Regions from separate parts of the Homo sapiens genome. Here region 2 is linked to region 1. The links come from fine-mapping of genetic effects on gene expression. A gene starts in region 1. The other region holds a variant in brackets. All regions are shown on one strand. Distances are from middle to middle.

Region 1 (2,901 bases):
CAGCACCTGGAACAGGAACTGGAGGACAGCGGCCAGGTCAGACTCGGGGCCACAGGTGCCCACACAGCCGAGCCCTGCAAGACAGGCCTCTCCAGCTTTGAGGGCCCCGCACCAGTGCCCCGAGAGGTCACCTACGCCTGGGGAAGCCAGGGCTGGAGGTCGGATGACCTAGCCCAGCTCCCATTCTGCGTTCTGCAGCTGCAGTCACGCCTGGCCTCCACGTCCCTACCCAGAAGGGTCAGTGCCTGGCGCAGCGCAGTGCCTGGCGCCCTGAGCTTGACCCAAGTGTCTGATACTGCTATTGCAGTTCCTATTATAACAATAATTTGGTCAGGCCGCACACCCCCAAAAAAGGAGGGGAATTAAATACACCAAAATCTTAGTAATGGCTATTTCCAAGTACTAGGATTTGAGTTAAATTTCTTTCTTCTTTATATCTTTCATTTTTTTCTAAAAGTTTTACAGGAAGTGCAATTCCATTACTCCTTTTTGGTTTTGTTTTTTTTGTTTTTTTTTTTTTTTTTGAGACGGAGTTTCGCCCTTGTTGCCCAGGCTGGAGTGCAGTGGCGCGATCTCGGCTCACTGCAACCTACCCGTCCCGGGTTCAAGCGATTCTCTGCCTCTCTCTCCCAAGTAGCTGGAATTACAGGCGCCCGCCACCATGCCTGGTTAATTTTTGTATTTTTAGTAGAGTCGGGGGGTTCTCCATGTTGGCCGGGCTGGTCTCCAACTCCTGACCTCAGGTGATCCTCCCTGCTCGGCCTCCCAAAGTGCTGAGATAACAGGCGTGAGGCAGCACGCCCAGCCTATTCCTCTTCATGATCAGAAAAAATAAATGTATTTAAAACAATTTCCCCTTTGGAAATGAAATGGGTAGCCGGCCCCTTCTTCCCCCTGCGAAGGTGCTGCAGGCTTCATGCATCTCTGGGTCCCATTTGTCCTGGAGCCATCTTCCAACTCAGGCTTTTGTGGGTTTCCAGCTGAGGCACACCCACCCCTTCTGTGTGGGGGCTGCCTGCTGCTGAGCAAAGTCAGGCCCCACTGCCACTGGGGATTGTCCAGAGACAGCTTTCAGGAGCCATCCTGCTGTCCCCAGACTCTGGACCTGGCAGTCAACATGGGCAGTTTCTGGGGAAAATGTGAGCACATTTCTGGATCCTGCCTGCAAGGCAGACACCCTCAGCCTCTCAGCTTCCTCCACTCCCTACCTGCCCCCCAGCTCCTCCTCCTTACCAGGGGTCCAGAAAGGGCAAAGAGAGTCCACATCTCAGTCCCAAAGCCTCTGGGAACCAGCCTGCTGAGGGCAGGGCAGCAGCCCCCATGGTCCAGGGCCACTGTGTCCTGGAGGCTGTCCATTCCTGGCCGGGGCACTGGCTACCCTGCACGCCTGAGCGCCTGCACGGCCAGCTTTGTCCAGCGAGCCACCCCCTGCCTGGGCAGCCCGTGTCGGTACAGCCTGGCTGATGAGTAAGGGGCAGGAGGAGGGGCTACCATGGCAACTTGTGGGATGAGCCCTGCCTCCTAGGGCACTGAGTCCCTGCTGCCAAGCCTACTGCCTCAGCCACTAGGGAGGACAGGTTCCTGGGAGTCACCCAGACCGCTGCCTGTTGTGTCTGGTCTCCCAGAGGGATTGGCAGTAAGGCCTCAGCAGGAGAAGGTCCAGGGCTGCCTGCAGTGGCTGTGGGAGGTGTGCTGAGGCCAGGACAGGGCAGCCTGGCTGGGGCAGCTGAGCCACTGGGCGTCCTGTACCCGGGCGTGATGGTGCCCACAGTGACTCCCGTTTTTCAGAAGAATTGGTGGCCTGCCCGAAGTCACAGAGCAGGTGGTGGCAGAGCCTGAACAGCCCTCAGCCCTGCTTTTCCCTGGGAGGGGTGGCTTCCCAAGAGACAGGGGCCTGGCAAACCCCATGGCAGTGCGGTCCCTAGCCTTTCATGCTGGAGGGGCCTGGGCCTGGGCCTGGGGATAGGGATGGGAGCTAGGACACCTCGGCGGAGTCCCAAGCCCCCCACTGCCCGTCACCCCTTTCAGCAGCATATCTGAGAGCCAGGGGTGGCAGTGCTTGGGAAAGCAGCTCACTATGCACGCCAGTCACTGTGCCCAGCAAGGCTGTGACTCGACGTCCCACAGGGTCCTCTGTCACCTTCCCAAATTGCCCTCTCTGCTTTTCCTTGCAGGGATGGCCTGTGACTCCCCCCTCAACCTGCCTCAAGACCAGCAGGGCAGTGGGAACCAAGAGAGGCATCTAAGGATTGCACCGGTCACCTAGCCCAGTCCTGGATCAAGCTTTTGGGTGTGGTTCAGCCCAGGAGAAGGAGGAGTGAGCGAGGGGGGCAGGAAGACAGCAGGCAGGCTGGCCAGTGGCTGTGGGAGGGCTGAAGACATCCCAAAGGCCCCACTTGGTTCCCATGTCCACCCCTGCAGCGGAGGAGTGGCCGGCAGGATTCCGAGATGCAGCCCCCAGAGCCGCGAGGAGGAAGGAGCAGACCCTGAAGGAGAGGAGGCAGGACAAATACAAAAAAAAAAAAAGGGTTTGCTACACCCATGGGCGGCCCCAAACACAGGCACAGCCCCACCCCAGTCAACACGCAGCCTTCTTTTTTGACACAGAATTCTGAAACGCTCCACTGGATCCTCCCAGGATCACCTGGGAGGTCACATTCCTGCCCTTGTTCTGATGGTTCTTATCACAGCACTCTCCAACCTGTGCACCAAATAGTACCTTTACCACCTGCCTAGAGGAAAGAAGACATTTTATCACCATCGTGATTGTGATGATGACACCAAACAGGAGGAAGTACAGGTGAAAGCTACAGCCCTGCAGGCCAGGCTATTGCTAGTATGTCTGACTTCCCTCCTCCAACACCTTCTCCACGTCCTTCTCACCTTTGGCCAGTTCTCATG
Region 2 (2,901 bases), 130 kb before region 1:
AACAGAAGGAGACTCCGTCTCAAAAAAAAAAAAAAAAAAAAAAGGAAAGAAAAAAAAATCAGTTTGAATTGTATCATGTCTTATGCATCTTCCTTTACAGGTCTGGGACTGACCTGTGGCTTACCATTACCTGATTAGATTTGGAAGGAGCTCGTGTCAATACTTAGAAAAGTGTAAAACTGAAATAACTGCACTTTTTTCTATTATGAAATTAAATCAGGAGACTTTTAGGTAATTTAGGTTGTTTGCCATTAATTGGATTACACAGTACATTCAGCTCCCACCCTTTCACCCTTGTGGAAAAGCCTCTCCCATGGATTGAAATCACACCTCCTGGGACGTCTGTTCCCTGGCTTTTGTTAGTGATGTGGAAAGTTGTTTCTTCCTGCATTTCATCCAGGCTTTCAGAGAAAGTGGAAAACACTTCTGCTGGTGATGGTAGGCGGCTTTCCCTAGTCTCAGAAAATGTCCCCTGTGTCCCCGTGAGATGGGTACACACCCTAAGAACACGGAGGGCCACCGGAGCTTCTCATTCAGCTACATGGGAGCCAAGACCTTGCCAGGTGGAATCAGTCACACATTTTATTTACAGGTCTGTTATTTGGTGAACGTATTGGATTAAGGGACATTTTTGCTTCCTTTGAAAGTTTAGACTGGGACTCTAGGAAGAGGCATGAAGGCAGAGGAGATTCGTATACATGGCTGCTCCAGTGTCCCCACCGGGAAAGACGAGCTTGGCCTCTACCTTAACAGGATGATGATCTAAGACTGGCAGGGAAATTTCCTGCTGTGTCCCCGCAGGGCCCAGGATTGGGGTCCACCTTTTCTGATTACTGCTTGCCAACCATCACTGCCCCCAGGGTGCTCCCTGGGCTCACTTCTGGGCCATCGGTCACTCCTCCATGTGGATGACATCTAATGGCCAGTCAGCCACCTTGTTCAAGAGGACCTCAGCATCTGGGTGTCCACTCTTCTCCTCTCCCCGCCTCTGCTGTCATCCCTGGGGCTGTGGGCTCGACTCTGTGACCCACAGTCACAGCTTTCATTTTTGAAAGGGATCAAGACCATGTAATTGGCCGAAAATGTCCACACAGGTACAATGACCAGATAGCCACCTACTCTTAACCTAGGATTGGGAAACAGGGGACCTCACCTGGAGACTTCGGGTCTTGTTTTAAGAGCAGGAGGATGCGCTCGGTGTTGACCAAGTCGGCCCAGCAGGGAAAGCAGCACAGCATAAGGATGAGGACCCCTCTCTGAAGTATGATCCCCACGCGCTTGAGGTTCTTGCCTCCAAAGGACTTGAGAAAACAAATGCACTGCTAACAGCATATGCCAGGCAGGCCGAGGCTGGGGGCCTGCGCCACAAGCAACCCCTCCCAGGGGCGCCTGCCCGGCGCCCAGGCAGACCGGTTTCCCATCATCTGCTCCCGCCCTCCCCACCAACAGCTGACAGCATTGGGGGAGCTTCTGAGCCAGGGACAACCAGTGAGCTAGCTGG[C/A]CCCTGTGGCATTTTACACGTGTCCTGGGACAATGTGTCCCTGCTCCCAGGAGCTGGGACTGTTAACATGGAGGGTAGAGGTAGCAGAAACTGAAGCTTAAAAGAGAGTTTTCAACATGGGAGGCAGACAGATGCTGCAGGAGAACATGTGCCATGGTAGAAGGTGAAGTTGTGGGGGACTCTGAGGGCCAGGGATACCCGGGGAGGGTGCAGTGGAAGAAAAGCACACACTGTAGGCTGAGAAGGGCAGCTAGCAGGGTGGCAAGAACTTCGGGGGGCGGGAGGTCATGGAGGCCAAGGCAGTGCTCTAGAAAGCAGGGATGGCCAAGTGGATTAAGGACGGCCAAGCGCTCACTTGAGGATTTTGTCATAGGAGGCCGGGAAGAGGCCAGGCCCAGTGGGCTGGGCAGGAATAAACAAGGCATCAATAGGGGCTGAGTCGGGAGTGCAGGCCAGGCCCGAGTGCAAAGAACACCTTCAAGAAGCTTGGCTTGAAGGAGGCCAGCAGGGAAGGAGGGGTGGTGGTAAGGGAGGGCGATTTTAGGGTATGGGAGACCAGACTGGGAGGAACAAAGGACAAAATGCCCTTGAGCAGGTGGCCCCAGAGGACAGCACTAGTCAAGCTGACTCTGCTGTTTTGTTTTTTTGTGTTTTTTTTGTTTTTGTTTTTTCCTGAGATGAAGTCTTGCTCTATTGCCTAGGCTGGAGTGCAGTGGTGAGATCTCAGCTCACTGCAACCTCCGCCTCCCAGATTCAAGCAATTCTCCCACCTCAACCTCCTGAGTAGCTGGGATTACAGGCGCCCACCACCGTGTCTGGCTAATTTTTGTATTTTTAGTAGAGACGGGGTTTTACCATGTTGGCCAAAATTGTCTTGACAACTTAGCTGACCTACCACTGCCCTTGGCCAAAGGCGGAAGAGCGCAGAGCCCCTTATCAGGAACGGGCTACAGAAATTCCTGTGGTTAGGCATGGCGTGGTGGCTCACACCTGTAATCCCAGCACTTTGGGAGGCTGAGGCGGGCGGATCACCTGAAGTCAGGAGTTCAAGACTAACCTGACCAACATGGCGAAACCCCGTCTCTACTAAAAACACAAAAATTAGCCAGGCATGGTGGTGGGTGCCTGTAATCCCAACTACTTGGGAGGCTGAGGCAGGAGATCTCTTGAAACCGGGAGGCGGAGGTTGCAGTGAGATCTTCTAGGAAGATAATAGACTCATTTTTAAGATAACTGTGAAAACAAAATTTTTTACCTTTGGAAAAATGTTCATAGTATAAAAGGACTAATAAAAATGTGTTTTTTTTTTTTAAATAAAGGAACATTTATTTATAGTCCACCTTGTTCCACGAAGAATTTGAACCAGTTTACACAAATACTTCCCTAAAAGAAGGATAAAT

Which allele goes with the higher level. Positions count from the first base shown, and alleles are read on the strand shown. Sizes are in standard deviations (SD) of each study's normalised expression.
In carriers of allele A in region 2, the expression in thyroid of the gene that starts at base 1,385 in region 1 tends to be higher than with C alone (large effect, 0.89 SD a copy in GTEx).

Evidence for each region. PIP is the estimated chance that this variant, and not a neighbour inherited with it, causes the effect.
Region 2: its variant is the best candidate, but not a certain one, in a credible set for the expression of SLC47A2 in thyroid (GTEx, PIP 0.75).

What each region holds. Positions count from the first base shown.
Region 1 is chr17:19,715,200-19,718,100 of GRCh38, forward strand. SLC47A2 (solute carrier family 47 member 2) reads right to left here and starts at 1,385. Exons shown (of 17, transcript NM_001099646.3): 1 at 1,234-1,385; 2 at 1-18. The coding sequence starts at 1,356. LOC124903948 (a long non-coding RNA gene) reads left to right here. Exons shown (of 2, transcript XR_007065659.1): 1 at 1-36; 2 at 2,175-2,901. RefSeq lists enhancers at 863-1,712, 1,713-2,560.
Region 2 is chr17:19,580,964-19,583,864 of GRCh38, forward strand. It overlaps the pseudogene SLC47A1P1. Among named protein-coding and RNA genes, the nearest start is that of SNORA59B, 25 kb to the left of the region's middle. The variant C/A (reference allele first, on the strand shown) is at 1,502.